2 separate regions of the Homo sapiens genome follow, and region 2 is linked to region 1. Evidence: fine-mapped expression QTL. A gene starts in region 1. The other region holds a variant in brackets. All regions are shown on one strand. Distances are between the middles of the regions.

The links. PIP is the estimated chance that this variant, and not a neighbour inherited with it, causes the effect.
Region 2: its variant is fine-mapped to the expression of PLEKHA1 in whole blood (TOPMed, PIP 0.90).

The regions. Positions count from the first base shown.
Region 1 is chr10:122,370,050-122,378,393 of GRCh38, reverse strand. PLEKHA1 (pleckstrin homology domain containing A1) reads right to left here and starts at 3,686. Exons shown (of 12, transcript NM_001001974.4): 1 at 3,588-3,686. RefSeq lists silencers at 3,079-3,278, 3,289-3,448, 3,469-3,538, 3,579-3,688, 3,829-3,978.
Region 2 is chr10:122,404,561-122,412,904 of GRCh38, reverse strand. It overlaps PLEKHA1 (pleckstrin homology domain containing A1), which reads right to left. Exons shown (of 12, transcript NM_001001974.4): 5 at 6,232-6,329. Among named protein-coding and RNA genes, the nearest start is that of MIR3941, 8.2 kb to the left of the region's middle. The variant G/A (reference allele first, on the strand shown) is at 4,909.

The DNA of each region.
Region 1 (8,344 bases):
GGGTGGGGGACAGGGGGGTGGGAAAGAGCCTACAAAATACAGTTAAAGGCAGTGAATAGTGAAAATTAAAACTCATTAAAACTCTTGTGTTTGTTCTCAGTAAGCTTGGACTGCTGAATAACCTGATGACATATGCAATAGCATTCTCATCCTTAATAATGGGAGGGAACACCTGACATGGAAATTCTCAGGAGGGATTTACTGTACCGGGTAAGATGCTACATTAGAAGCCCTCTGACATCACTTCCAATTCTAGTGCCTGTGATCGTCTTTTCCTTCAAGAGGTTAAATTCAATCCAGAATCTAGAGTTCAATGGTTAAACCATAAAAGGCTAGGCTGCCTAAAGGGCTAAAAACCACAACTTTCTGGAGAATAAAGCTATCAGACTGACAAGCCTGGTAAGAGTTCCATGTAGGAAACAATATTTTGCTCTAAAACTTATTTAACTTAAAAAAATCTTAAATGACTAATTTTCTTTTATATCCAACAGAAATTCCAGTTCAAAGAAAGCTTATAAAATCCCAAAAACCCTATCTTCCTGAATATTATCAATTCAACTAATTAAAAGGCTTACTAAAATAAATAGCAAACATATGTTTGCTTAAGCATCTTCTAGGAATCACAAACTCACATATCCCTTATTAGACAGTACCCACAAGAAAAAAAGTTACTTAGGGTCAAATGGTTTAATATTGCTCAGTAAGTGTAAGAGAGTTCTAGTGCTATAACAAATAACAGGATGCTTTATGTTTACATAAAAACATCCCATATTTTTATGTTTCTAAAAATAATTAAGCATTATAAACAATCATCTAAAGCTACCAAGTTTTCTGCCCTTTCTGAAAGCATTCCTTTCAGACACCATGTCAATAAATTCTTAAATGCTGGATGTGTACTCACAAATGGTCAAAAAACCTAAAACCAAATCTTAATATTTAACTCCTATTGAAGTCATTTTATTGTATCATTGCAGATCTAAAACAAGATTTTTTAATCTTGAAATTTAAATTTTAATATTAACAAAAGTAAACTGCTCCAGCATGAGAAAAGTAATTATTTGCATATTACCTCAGCTCACAGTTGGAATCAAATAGGAAATACTTTAAGGCAGTTAGTTATATCAACCCAAAATTTTCTAATAAAAGCAATGTTACTATTGTCACAAATAATTACTACACTATATTCAGAAAACTATCTTCCCCATTCTCAAATAAGTTATTTAAACAATAATGACTTGACATCAAGCAATATGTCAATGTCAAAGTATGACTTAAATTATATTAATAAACTATTTATTAGATTTCATTCTGGGTTACAAATTATCACACAATTAAAATAACTTCGGGATTTGCAGCATGACTAATAATAATAAAGAACTTCCAGGCTTAAGTCAAAAAGCCACTTTGTTTAAATCTCCATTAAATGTTTTTTGTGGGGGGAAGTCCCCATAAAAATGTAAAATGTTTCCACCTTTCCCAAGTATCTTCCTAGGAGTGGTCAATATTGTCATATCCTATATGTTAGCAAACGATACTTGAATGACTTTTAAAGAAAAGAATCCAATGCTATTCTTAACATCCTTAAACACTTCTAAAAAGGTCCTTCCGGCTTATGAACTCATGGCAGTTTCCTCACAATTGTATACTTATCCTGTTTCACTGTCTCTCCTAGTCTATGACAAACTCAATTTTACACACCATCTTTCCTATTTTGTTACACTGCTAAAACTGGGGAGAAAAAAAGATACAAACCTGCTACTTTCCCCCCTCCCAAAGCGACAATGAAAATACTAATTAACAAGATAAAGATTGGAAGCTCTGCGCGCGCCCGCGCGGTGTGTATACACATATATTTATATTATATATATATATATATATATATATATATATATCTTCTTAATGTCACTAAATTCACAGCCATATATCTTGATACAGGTATACGCTACAAGAGAAAACTGTCAGTAGATACAGTGTAAGGTTTACGGCAGTATAAAATAAATTAACTACTTTATTAATTCAAATTCTGTCAAACTTAAATACTCTTTTTTAAATGTATCAGTACTCTAAAATGCAATTTTCCTTGGGAAAATTGGCCAAGATAAAAAATACTTTAACTCCACTAGGGGAAATATTTCTTTTGCCACAAGTGTGTCAACAGGAAAAATTAAGAGCATGAAAAGTAAACAGGTATTTTGATCAGAATAAATCTTATTATTTTAATATAACGGGTCTTCAAGTTCTTCAGATTGTGAAGAAAAACACAGTTTCACAAAACAATCACATAACTCTTACCCAAACTTTGCTGTAAATGGTTTCAGTGGCATCAAATTAACATAGAAAGTATGCAAGCTGAGTACTTGGGAAAATAAAGCAGATTGATCAGGAGTTCTAAGATGAAAGACAATGGTGTAAACCTCATAGTGCACTATTTGTTCCAGTCATTAAACACACAGGAAATAAGATTTTCTATTTAGAAAACTAACTCACAAGGGGCAATGACTTCATTAAAACAAAGAAAATCTTATTAAAACAACGATCAATTGTAAAATAAGAAAACCAGTACTGCAGAATTGGAAGGTGAAACAAACAGACGAGGAAAACGCAGAAACTGCCTGGATATTTATTTGTTCCTTGAACCTCTTCTTGTACTGCCCCCAGAGAGCAAAGGAGTTTCATTATTTATACGCCCAGACCACGGTAGATGCTCTGCGCGGGGGCACAGCCTCACCAGAATTCTACCAAAGGCGGTAAACACTATAAGCAACAGGACCGCTTTCATTATGACACACTTTCCCCTCTTTCCAGGAGGTCAATAGAAAGCATCTGAAACAAACCACAAACCACTCAAGACGGCCCCAAAGCTCTGCGGTTGGCAGCTGGCCTCGGCGTCGAAAGACCTGGGTCTGGTCGCCTCCCCGGTGCCACCTGCGTGACCTTGGGCAAGTCGCTTTCAACGCTGCCTCTGGCCACCTGCCCCGAAGGTGCGGAGGTAAATCGCGGACACCGCCCGACTTCAGGGCCCAGGGCGGAGCCGGCTTCGGCCTCGGCAAGTCCTGAAGCCAAAATGCATTAAACACCAGGAAAGGATGCCCGGGGACGCGCGCCCCGCGGGCACAGCCCTGGAGGGAGGCGCTCCGACCGGCGCCACCGGGAATCCCCGGGCAGCTGCGCGCACCGCGCCCCGAGCGGGATTTCTCGGGGGGCGGAGACGCCGAGGAGCTCGTCGGCCCCGCGACCGCCGCGGGCCTCCCGCCCTCCCCCGCCGGGCGCCGCTGAGGGCTGACGTCGGGAAAACAATCGGGGACCCACGGGAAGAAGACGCCGCCCCCTCCCGCTGCCCCAAGCCAGGGCAGGTGAGCCGGCCCGGCGGCCTCCAGGTGCTGTGGCGCGTGGCGCGGACGTGCGCAGAGGGGGCGCCGGCTCCGCACTCACCAGCACCCACCGCCCCTCTGCGGACGCCTCCCCGCTCGCCACAGCGGGAACCGCGCTCCAGCAGCCCGGCAGCCCCGCAGCCGCCGCCACCTCGCGCCTGGCCCCGTCCACCACCCCTGCTCCAGCGCGGCCGCGTTCTTCAAGCTAAACTTTACCGCGGCCTCGGCCCGGAGCACCCGCGCCGCCGCGGCCCCGGCTCCCACAGAGGCTCGGCTGCCCGGAGCGGCGTCCGCGACGGCCAGCCCGCGCACTGCGCACGCGTCCCCACGCTGCCTCAGCCCTCAGACGGCGGCTGAGATTCCGGAGCGGGCGCTCCCAGCCCGCAGAGACTACGAGTCCCGGCAGGCCCCGCGCGGGTCCCTGCGGCGTGGCGGGCCGAGTTTCTGGCGTCTTCCTGGTTCCAGCGGCGGCGGCCTCGGCGCGCCGGGGAGGCCTGCGCGCGGAGCTCTGGGCCGCCGCGCCGCGGTGCTTCCTGGTATTCGTAGTTTTTGACCACCACTGGGCTTGGCTCGGAGGTAGAACTCCGGGTTCTCTGATGTCATCGCCTAGAGCTGCGAGGAACAGGGATCTTTAAAAATAGGCTTCGTTAGTTTGCAGATAATTTGTTTGCAAGCTGTCCCATAATCGGTCCAAGTGTCACAAATTTACAGGCTGCGGTGTGACCTGGAGAAAAACGCTTTACAGCTCTGCGCGCCAATTTTTCGCTCTTCTCTCTCCCTGCAAATGTAGCTCCACTGCCTACTTACAATGGTGTTAATAGTACAGGAGGGTAAGAGAGACTTAAAGAAGGGTTAGTCGAAATTCTTTCAGCAACGGTGGAGCATAAATATGTATTCTGGTAAATATTCGTTGAGTGTTTAGCAATTTCTCGAGCACTTAACTGTGTGCCAAGTACGCGATAGGCAACCCGGCATTCATCTGAGAAAGAGACACTGTCACTGCCCTTATGGAGCCTGCAGCTTGGGGGAAACTCGTCCGCAAACTAGCAAAATCGTTCCAGATTTTAATAGAATGGCCAGACTGAGAAAGTTCAAGAGACAGTAGCGGTGGCGGGGACGGGGGGAGGCTCTTCAGAGAGAGTGGCAAGGCAAGTTCTCTGAGGATGTGATATCTGAGCTGAAACCTGAAGAATGAGAAATATTCAGACAGGCAAAGAACTGGGAAAGAATTACATGCCACGCCTTTCACAGCGCATGCCACTCTAGGCTCTTAATAAATATTTGTTCTTTTTGTGTGCTTCTTCCTTTCCTCTCCTTGCACAACCTTAGATCACATCCTATCCCCTTCAAACCCTTTAAAAAATCTTTATCAACATCTTTTAGAATATCCTTCCTATGTGAAAATGTACATGAAACAAATGTCCAGTGGTAAGACAAGCTGTACAGCTGCTAGGACAGAAGACACAACCCTGGTGACAGGCTGGAATCTATCTACTTTGCCACTTTCTTTATTTGCGAACTGGGTTAGAAGTCTGGGGGCTCAGCCTGGCCTCCTGACTTGTTTCTCTTCATGGGGCATCATACAGGATTTTGAGTTTGTCTTTATTAAAATCTTAGAGGAAGCCTACCTGTTATCTGAATCAGAGGTGTAGTGAAGAACAGCCCTAGATTTTCCTGTGTAGACTTACCTATGTGACTTTATGCAGAGAGTGACACTTTGCCCTTCTGACCCTCAGTGACCTCGACTGTAAATGAGTGTCATCCACCCTGCCTGCCTTGCAGAATGTTCTCAGAGTCTGATAAATTGATGGAGGTGAAAACATCTTGCAAACTGCATAGAACGGCTCTCTGACTGCCTCTTTGAGACTTAGCATTTTCAATTGCCTTTCATCCAACGTGATATTTTGGTTATCTTTTGAGAAACCTTAGCTATGCAGCCTTGCTGACATCTGTCCCTTTTGGGGTCCTCATCTGTATAATGGTTGAAAGGGTTTGGCCTCACTATAGTTTATAAAGTAGCCAGAGCAGATTGTTTCCTTTGGTCCACACAGTGGGTTTTTGTTGATTTAACTGAATGTGTGGTTAACATTTAAAAATAAAAATCTAGGTGTCACCTGTCTTATCCCTGTAGGCATTTGAGTTTGCCTTCCCTGGCTAGAAGGTCTGGAAGGAGTCTCTAGCTTGTCAGTGCTAGAATCCTAGAAGATTCCAGATGGGAAATTTGTTTATTTGAAATTCAAAGTCAAATTCACATCTTTTATTTGATCTGAAAATACTGGTCCTGAGAATAGAACACTTAGGCCAAGAGCCTCTCACCCTCTCCAGGCTGGACCCGCCGGATCTCTCTCCTAAATGTTGTTTGACATCATTGATGAGTGGTTTGAAATTGTTCCTTTGGCCAATGTGATGGCTCCTGCTTGTAATCCCAGCACTTTGGGAGGCCAAGGTGGGCGGATCACTTGAGGTCAGGAGTTTGAGACCAGCCTGGCCAACATGGTGAAACCCCCTCTACTTAGCCAGGCATGGTGGTGGGCACCTGTAGTCCCAGCTACTCGGGAGGCTGAGGCAGGAGAATCAACTGAACCCACGTGATGGAGGTTGCAGTGAGCTGAGATCGTGCCACTCTACTCCAGCCTGGGGGACAGAACGGGACTCAAGAAAAAAAAATTGCTCCTTTGTTCTTTTTGCATAACAAGTCCCCAAAACTGTTTATCATTGAGAGCCATATTTACATACAGTAAAGAAAGCCAGAAAAGTAACTCAGTTTGCCCAAGGACACACAACAAGATAATCCCAGGACTGCTTTGAGGTTGCAGTATAACCAGAACTTCATAGCTCCCGATCAGCCAATAAATACAGAGACAAAAAAAAAAAGCTCTCTGCTTTTCTTCCAGCCTCTTTTTTTTTGGATGCAGAGGTTTATTACATAACAGTGCTTTCAGTGCTATTTAAAAAAAAAATAGTACAGGGAAATTACAGTCTGGGAGCAAACCAAGAACACTCAGGACTCACTGAAGGCACTGAGGAATGCTGGAATATTCCATGGCTACTTTTCATCTGAAGAAAAAGGAGGAGTCTGAATTCAAGGATCTATAGTTTAGCTGTTTACTTTTTTTTTTTTTTCTGCCGGAAGGGACAGAGTCTCGCTCTGTCGCCCAGGCTGGAGTGTGGTGGCACAATCCCAGCTCACTGCAACCGCTGCCTCTGAATTCAAGTGATTCTCCTGCCTCAGCCTCCCAAGTAGCTGGGATTACAGGTGCCTGCCACCATGACAGGCTAATTTTTGTATTTTTAGTAGAGTCAGGGTTTCTCCATGTTGGTCAGGCTGATCTCGAACTCCTGACCTCAAGTGATCTACCCCCCTCCTCAGCCTCCCAAAGTTCTGGGATTACAGGTGTGAGCCACTGCCCCAGCCTGCAGTTTACCTTTAAAGTATCACTGTCATCATTATCATCATGCTTTGCACGTGTGAAGTACGTTGATGTTTCATTCAAAAATAGCTCTTGGGCCCCTTCCATATGCTTAGTGCTGGGCTCTGGGGCTTCCAGACAGACGTCAGCCCCTCTGACAACACAAAAAGCAGCGTACAGAGGCACGCAGAAAGCTCCTGAATGCTAGTCACCTCTCTAATATTTGATGTCTGCAGCATTTCCTGCATTATCTTTTTCCCCTTAGCAATGGTCACTTTTGTACATATTATATATGTGCATATATATTTTTTTTTCTGCATATCCCTCTAAACTGTAACCTCCACGTGGCCAGGGATTTTATGTTTTGTTCCTGCTTGTATCCTTAGTGCCTACAACAGAAGTATGTGTTGAATGATGAATGCCACAGTCCCCTTTATGGACAGAGCCAGCATCAGAAGCCAAGCAGAAGGAGTACCTCCAGAAGCAAACCTCTGTTCTAACCAGAAATCAGAACCAAGATAGAACAAGAATTAAACATGAACTGAACACTCTCTGAACCCGGCTTTGTTCTTTTTGTGTCCCCTCCAGAAACTGGGTAGCAGAGAGTTAAAAACGGCTTTTCCCTATTTTTTAGTGTAAAAATGGCACAAGAACTCCAGGCAGCGAGTCAGTGGAGTTGCTTCTGTGGGTGAAGAGTCGGAGCTGGCTTTCTGACCCTGCCTCACAACTGGCAATGACCAAGTGAGGGGAAGCATGATTCTCAGTAATCACCCCAAGCAGGCACAGATTAAGTGACCTTCCCAGATTACCAATCAGGTGACTGGAGTCTCCTTCTGGAGCTAATTCTTGCATCCCAGGGCTGGGGCAGAACAATCCTCCTTCAGGAAGGTGCCACGAAAGATTGTCCACATTTTATGCTTACCAAGGTGGAAGAATAGGATTTCTGAAAAAGTCAGCAACCAGCCCAAATTCCAGGCCCACACAGGAAAAAAAACAAAAAACAAAAAACAAAAAACTGGGCATCCGGGGAGATGCTTGCCTCCAAGACTTGTAGAGAGCAGAACTAGGTCTTTCCTGCCTTAGGATTATCAGACAAGGAAGGGAGCCCAACACTGAACATCTGGGTTGGACAGGATCTAAAGTTGCTGAAAGCCACTGGAGTTCTAAAGGTCCCCAGCAACCCTATGATCTCTGGGGGTCTGGTGGGTTCCAGCTGCATCTACACCCTAGTTAGGTCATACATTAATTACCCTGACCACATGTGGCAGGCCTGGGATGGTGGTAAACCCTAAAATTGCAGAGCACAGGATGCTTGCTGTCATCCAAACATACGGACTCTTGCTCCAATGTGGTGTGAAAACTTGAAAAACAAGATTTTCTGAATCAAGATGATCATCCAGGGCCACACTTGGGTTGCTAATTGCAGCACTGAAGTAGGGAGCATTCTAGAAGGTGAAGACTCCTTGCAAACAAAGCTGGGAGAGAGGATCTGGGAACAAGTCCATCTTGGGCTTCACAAGCTCCTTGGCCTGGGGGAATTGTACCCTCAGACCCCTTCCCCTT
Region 2 (8,344 bases), 35 kb before region 1:
AAATGAATCATTTTGCAACCAGCATTATACATGTGAACCTGTTTTCTCGCAGAATTTCTAATTATTCATCCGTTTGCATACGGTTGACAGATACATATAAAAATTATAGTCCATGTATGTACTCCTTAAGTTATCACACTAATTTTTCTGTTAGAATAATATTTTATAATATAGCTATCACGTAATGAGTGCTTACTCGGGCAGGTACTAGTTCACACATTTTTCTCCTTTACTACTCCTGTCTACCCTATGCATAGGGGCTCTACCCCCACCTAAGAGGTAAGGAAATAGGCTCAGGGGCATTAGGGAATATAGATTCAGATCCTGACTATAATACATTCTAGCCAAGTGTGTGTAACTCTTCCAAGCCCAACTGCTGTGCTCTAGACCCTGTTTATTGGCACACTTACTATTGGCTTACAGCTCTTTGCTGTTTTCTTCCCTTTCTCCATTCCTACCCATGATTCTGGGATTGTGGCATATTCAGTCTTTCCTGGCTTCAAGACAGAGACTATTACCAAAACCATAGTGTATTCAATAAATGTTGAAAGACTCAATGGATGAATCCAAAGTCAGCAGAAAAAAGAATAGCAAAATTCTTAAAACAAATCAGAAGTTTCAAAACAAAACTTTTCATTAGAAATTTAAAGAAGGAATTCCAATACTTGGATCAATGATAAATCGTTCACAAGTACAGGAAAACAATGACTGTGGTAACAGCAGAATCTCACATTAACACCTCACTAAAGTGGATGAAAGAATCAGAGGTATCATAAATTTTTAACATATATTTTTGCTTTTCTTATGTGATCTATTCAGTAAATAAGGTACTCAGTTAATCATTATTTCTATCTGTAGACTGTTTAGCACATAGTCTGTATTTAAATTATACATTTTTAAGGCTGTGAATAAAATGTAATAAAATCTGCTCAGCATCAATTATAATGTTGAACATGATTTAGTCTTCTCCAATGATTTAAAGGGCACGTGGAACCTTGCAGTCTTTCAGAAACACTATGACAAATACTACTGACAATCACTGAAGTAGTGGTGTAGAAACATTTAACTTAAATAGTTTGCTTGTCATATAGCTAATTCCTGTTAATAGAGTACTGGTAGAACTACAGGACACCACTCACATTGTATTCAAAGGCTCAAACCGTTTATTAGTGTGATTCCAAAGCAGTGTGATTTCTCAAACTTTAGAGTGCATAAAGTATCACCCAGGAACATTATTTAAAACTTCAGATTCCCCTGCTTCGAACCCAGAAATTCTGACTCAACATATCTATAGTGCAGCCCAAAAACCTGCACTTTAAGCAAGAACACCAGACATTTTTGAGGCAGGAGTTTCATAAACCACACTTTGAGAAACACTGCTCTAAAACCTGTGCTCTTCTTCCATACGATGCTACTCCCACCAGATTTGTAGAAAAGAGGGTATACAATGCAGATAAGGATTTGCAAAGCAGCTTTCTGCAAAATATTGAGCAAACATGGTCCATGTGTATATGAAAGGATGCTGAGCTACAGTAAGTCCCAATCCACACAAATGTAATTTATGGATATAATAAATGACTTGTCTCTTAAGTGACTTCTAAAACTCCCTCTCCCTTCCTTCTCCACCTGCCTCCCTTGAAGAGGTTTCTCTCAGGCCCCAGGCCCAATCCTCCAGCCTCTGGTTCGTATTCATACTACAATGCCCTCATCCGCAGAAACAAAAGAGAGAGAAAACAGGAAAGAGAAGAGAATCCTGAATACCTCTTGAATTCTTCTAAGAACTTGCACACTTTGGAGTGCTTTTTAAAGACAATAAAATAATGAAGAGAATTTTCCTTGTCAAATAAAATTAGGATAGTATACCCTGGAATGATTTGCTAGGGAAGCCCATTATATTTTCTAATGAATAGCACCATATATTTCAATTATTCTGACAGAGAAAATATGGCCCAGTTATCTCATTGAGAAGAACAGCAACTAGCATTAAGAGAACCTGAAACCAGAGAGAAAACAATCTATTCAACTAGATAAAATGAGAGGTGCTGCTAAGAGGTGACCCATAAGAAAACTAGCAGTTATTCTCTCAAGAAGTTTAGTCAGACCTGGGAATTATTAGGAAAAACCTTTAAAATCATTCTAAAAAATACCGAAATTTATATTGGTTTTTCCATTTTTCTTAAATTACAGTATATTAAAAGTCCTTGCTTATGCTGTTAAGCTCACTGCTTCTAATTTGTCTTTATAATAAAATCAAATGCTAGTAGTTAACTTAGAACTGCATTTTACTATAAAAATTATCTAACTTGTAATCATCTTATTCCCTAAGAACAAGAAAAGTTCAAGCAAAATACCCATGAACATGGATAACTCCTCTAAAAACAATATGTACCTCTGTAAAACTTGGTCTAAATTCAGCCATTAAGATAGACATTTTCAGGACACACCCCTGCCCCAAACCATCCAACTGTCCAATGAAAATCAGAAAAGTGATCTCACTGGGCAGTTGGCACATGTCAGACACTGAATCCACTTGGTTTCTTTGTCTACTGCCTCTCTCCCTTTCCTTGGCTTTCTATCCTTTTTTATGTCCCAGCATTTTTTGTAGGAGATCTGAATGTAATCTTGGCAGGCATTTGCATGTGATCCTAGTAGTAGGAAATTCTAATAGTAGGAAAAGAAAAGGTAAAAATAACTAGAGAATAAAAAGATGAACAAGACAGATTTAAGTATTTATGAGTGAAATACATAAAAACGCTGCAGGTTTCTCAAAAGTTAAAGGGAAAGTTGATATTCAATTCACCAAGAATGAAAATATAATGTTGGGCTAGGCGCGGTGGCTCACGCCTGTAATCCCAGCACTTTGGGAGGCCAAGCTGGGCGGATCACTTGAGGCCAGGAGTTTTAAAACCAACCTGGACAACATGGCGAAACCCAGTCTCTACTAAAAGTACAAAAATTAGCTGGCTGTGGTGGCACACACCTGTAATCCCAGCTACTTAGGAGGCTGAGGGCTCAAGAATCACTTGAACCCCGGTGGCGGAGGCTGCAGTGAGCTGGGATAGCACCACTGTACTCCAGCCTGGGCAACACAGCGAGACTCTGTCTCAAAAAAAAAAAAAAGGATAAAAAGAAAGAATGAAATTGTCATAATGTTCAATTCACTGAGGATAAAAACGTGCAGACACAAACTCCTGGGTCTTACAATCTTTCTGAGAATTCTACATCTACTTGTTTCCAGTTTCTATTAAAAATATATCAAACTTGTGGAGTTTCTGCCACAAATTCAAAGTACTAATTTTTAGATTCAAATCGAACATTTATTTTTAAATTTTAAAAAAGACATGTTTAAAAATAATGGATCTCTGTTCAGGAATAAACCATATATATCTTAGACATTCCTTAATAATCAATAAGGGAACAGAAACCACCATATTTATGTTGTTTCCACTATATTTCCACTATATATATTTCCACTATAAATGAACAGTGGAAAGCATACTTTAAAATTTGATTTTCCTCACTCCAGTCATTGATACTCCCCCTTCGGGGCTGATTCTCCCACTGTTGCTCTTTTCCTTTTTGTGCGTATGTTTAATACAGATGGTCCAGGACTTACAATGGTTCAATTTTTCAACTTTACAAGTGGGTTTGTTGGGGTATTAAATGGATTTTCAACTTGTGTTTTTGACTTACAATAGGTTTATAAGGATGTAACCCCATCATAAGTTGAAAAGCAACTGTAAAGGGAAAAGAATTTCAAGTGGCACCCACCTAGACTCAAGTAAGGAAAGTCACAGACTATAGCGTTAGAGGATAATGGATTAAAATGGCAAGATATTATAACTAGGAAATAGTTTAAAAATCATCATTCCCTTACCCATTGCCCTCTAACCACCTCTATTTTGAAACCACACACTTCCAAACTCTAATTTTGGATTTCCAAAATTTTAAAATTTATATATCACACAGTACTTAGCAGACCACTAAATTAGAGTTGACCAAAATGAGAGTGATCCCATAGAAAGATTTATGTATTAAGTACATACATCAAAATGTACATTTTAAGTTTTCAAATAATCTACATGTAAATCATCAGCAATGTTCACAGGAAAATATAACAAATTGGAGATTCCACACTTTAATACACTTAAATGTATAAAATGCACATGAAACTGGTAAGATATTTTTAAGGAATAAAATTAACATAAAGCATCTTATTAAAGCATAGGAAATTATTTCATTGCTATCCTATGAGTTAAATGTGTGTCTATCAAAAGTTTATTTTTAATAAGTACTATCAAATCTATACTCACTTTAATGCAGTTATAACCACTTTATTAAGTAATAAGGATTTCTATAACTTCTATGTATTTATATTTTCCAAATGTGAATTATAAAAACATTAAAATCATTTACCAACAAATTTATCTTAAAAACTATAAAAATTTCAACAGGTAAAATAAAATTGCAAGACCACAAAAGCTACTTAGAAGTCTTTTTAGAATTCTATTTAGAATCTCTAACCTGTTTTTCCTTCATGCTGAAAAGCTTACCAGTGTCATTTGTATAAGACTGTTTCATACCATTGATAAATCAGACATAGCAATTCAAGACCCCCCAAAATGGTAAAAAGCCTGAGACCATTCACTACTTTTTCTCTTAAAGCACTAAGAAACCAGTGCTGCTTGTTATTGCAAATGGTAAAACATGAATTTAGTACAGTTACGAGATATTATCTTTCTAAAGAAATTTTTCAAGCAGGGAATATTTATTAGAAGAGTTAAAATGATTAGCTAAAAGCTTTTAAGAATATGTATGTCTGAATCAGGTTAAAAAATTGCTTTCCTGACACTGCACAAACCTAAAATAACTTCTGCTTCATGTACAGATCAGATGCGGTGCGTAGGC[G/A]TTTTCTGTCATGTGGTAACAAGCTGTTCTAGAGCAAAACAAAAAGATTCGACTAAACTCTGAGAACAGCTTTAACTATATTGACTCTTTATTGTGTTGTGATATAAATAGGAAATTATTCATTTTAGATGGAAACTAATGAGTGACTAACATATGCTGACTTTCAGGGCACATGTTCTTTGAGAATAAGTCACTTAGGGTCAGTATATAACTGCACTTTCTTTAAAAAAAACAAAAACAAAAACGCAATTGACACAAATCTCACAACACAAGAACTCCTTCCCAACATTTTCCAGGCAGGCCTGCTATGTATTTCTCTACAAAAGTGTAAAGGGAAAGGTGAGGCAAGGTATAATCAAAATAGAGCCTATCTACGTGCTGCTCATCATCACTAGCAAACTCTCTCAGTAAAGGTTGTTGTTGGCTTTAGGAACAAAAGAGTAAGGAGAGGGCTGTTCTTGTTCAGGAAGCAGTAAGGCACTGCACTTCAGAGTTCGGGCTCCAGAGGCCAAAAAACTGGACTGGGCTTCCAGCTCCATAATCTACCAGCTATAACACTGGTAGATTAATCTTTCTAAGCCTCACTTTTCCAGTTCATTTAAGTAAAACCTTCGGTCTAAGATCTGGCACAGTGTTAATAATCAATAAATATTCATCAGGAAACCAAAAAAGAAAAGAAGCACACATTAGAAGCAAGAAATTGTAGCATGGGAAAGGAGGGCAAGGGTACCAAGCCCTGGAATGCAAGGAAAAAAATCAGACATGGGAAGAAGTTTAGAGCCTGAGACAAACTTCTCAAGGGTCACATGGACAGGACCCTCTGGCTGCCGCAACCCTTCAGACACTATTCCTATCCCTAACCCTCATTTTTCAGCCTTCATCTCCCCTTGTCCTGCTCCTGTTTTCAACTCTTTCCCTATCTGACCCCAATCCCAGTCATGGCTTAGAAGAGAGAAGTGCCTATTCCCCAGGTAGGTGACAGGAAATCTCTTACACTATATTGGAAGAAAAATATATATCCTCCCGGTAGAACTCTACGTGCTAAGCGCATTTTCTCCTAGAAACGTTGCAAGAAGTGATTAAGATCTGCAGTAATATATCTCCTTATTAGGTGCATAAGTTAAAAAGACAATCATGGGCTGATTAAAGTGCCAACAGTCACCAAGTACAAGAAAACATATTCACATTCTGAACACCTGTCTTTTAAACAAAGCTTGAGTATGAAACCTGTTGGTAAGCTGGGAACATTTGGTAGGTGTATTTTCAAAATGAAAAGATTAATTCCAGACATCGAACGTTTTTCAAAAAAATACATATACTTACTGTAATTTTTATAGCTTTGTTTAACACATTTACCCATTCCACTAGGTCCTGCTGATCATTGGCTTGTAGGAAGTACTTCCTCATTCCTGCATTCATAACTGTTGACAGAAAAAAATAACACACCAAATATTGTACTTATTACCTCTAAATTTATGTTTGCAGTAGCTGAAAAACCTTGCTAAGTTCAACACCGTGACTCTCGTGGATTTGACAAAATATATCAGACCACATGTAATACAGCTTTTATCACACAATAACACAGGTAAAACTCTTATTTTGTTATGGCCATTTTGTTTATTAAATGGATACACCACAATACATTTAGTCAATCCCCTAATGATAGACACTTAGGCTATTTCCGGTTTTTGAAATTATATAAAATATCACAATGAAACATCATATACATATATTTCTCCACACTTGGCTAGCATTTCTGGGTGATAAATTTCTTGACATAGATTTGTTGGGTCAAAGACAATTGACATTTAAACTTTTTATAGGTATTTCCAAATCATCTTCCCACAAAGTTGAATCCATTCACATTCCTACCAACCACATACACATTTTATTTCATCGAATACCCCTCACCAGAACTGGTTGTTAGCACCTGTGGATACCTCTAGTTTCTAGTTTTCAAAGGCTCTGTGGCACTGGGGCTGGTAGTCTGCAAACAATATTTCCTAGACCCCATCTGAGGCCATTCTCTGCCACTGGGAGGTACTGATGAGAGACTGTAAGGTGGGAGAGGGGAGAAGGAAAGAGGAGACTCTCCTTGACTCCTGCTGTTGTTGACCTCTCTCCAACAGCAGCACACAACTAGCTACTGTTAGGAGCCTTTTCCTGCCCCCTATGCCAGCCTTGCAGAGTCCCCTTGGATACTAATAGCTCCATGGTGGCTTCTACTCCACTGCCCTAGGTTATAGTAATACTACTACCCCTTCTCTTTTGTCTCTCTAGCCCTTGAGTAGTAGTTGCTTCATGCGTCTAATTCCTGGGTTACTTCAGCATTCCCTTCATGTTCTTTCAGCCTTCCAATATTTGGGTAACCAATTCCCCATAACAAATCCCTTAGGTTTGAAATATCTAGTGTGCTGTTTTCCTGGCTAATACTCTTTAACAACCTAATTGGTAAATAATTGTACCTTGTTCAAATTTTAATTTCTTTGGTTATTGAGATAAATTAGTTTTGTAAGTTTATTGGCCATCTGCATTTATTTTGTAAGTTTTGTTTACTTTCTTTACCCACGTTTCTCCTGAATTCATTATTAATTTATAGCAACTTCTTTATTAATCTTTTCTGCTTTATTACCAATACTTTACCCAGTCTGTTTTACTTTAACAGTATTTTTGATCAGACAGAAATATACTATGAATCTTTTCTATAAATGCATCCAGATTTCATATCATCTAGAAAATCTCCCTAACTTAAGATCTATTTTTCTAGACCTTATGAATTTCCTTTATATTTTGAATCTTAATACATTTGGAACTTTTATGCAATTTAGTTTCTATATTCCCCTTTAGGGACTAGGTACTTTTATCAAGCAAAGCACATGTGCACATACAGTTGTCTATAAACTATCATAGTCCACTCTTGAATTAAAGCTATTTATTATACACCATCTGCATTTATTTTTAAAAGCATAAATATTATTCTAGGAGCTAAGTATCTGAATAGTTATACTGTTGCAATTGTTCAAATATAAAAATAACTTCCAAACGTCTCCACCAAAATTTTAAAAGATATACTAGCACACAGTTCAATGTGACTGAGAAGGGGAAATGCAAACTCTCAAGGAAAACACACAAGATTTTGAAATTGGGACTGAGACCAAAACACTCTAAACTACAGCTTCCTTGAATTGAGATGAAGGTCTCAGAAAGGAAGTCAAAGCCTATCTTGTAAAGTGCTACAAAACAACCAGTCTATAACCTTAAAAGAAATTTAACACACTGGAAATCTGTTCTTGTACATCTTTCTAGAGACTGGAAAAGTTATAACTGCCATAAATATGTATTAAGATAAATCCATAATTCACTAGGATGCTATATCTATCAATAAATAACTTGTTTTTAATTTCTAGCCATCGGTAAGGCTTCCTTTTATAATCTT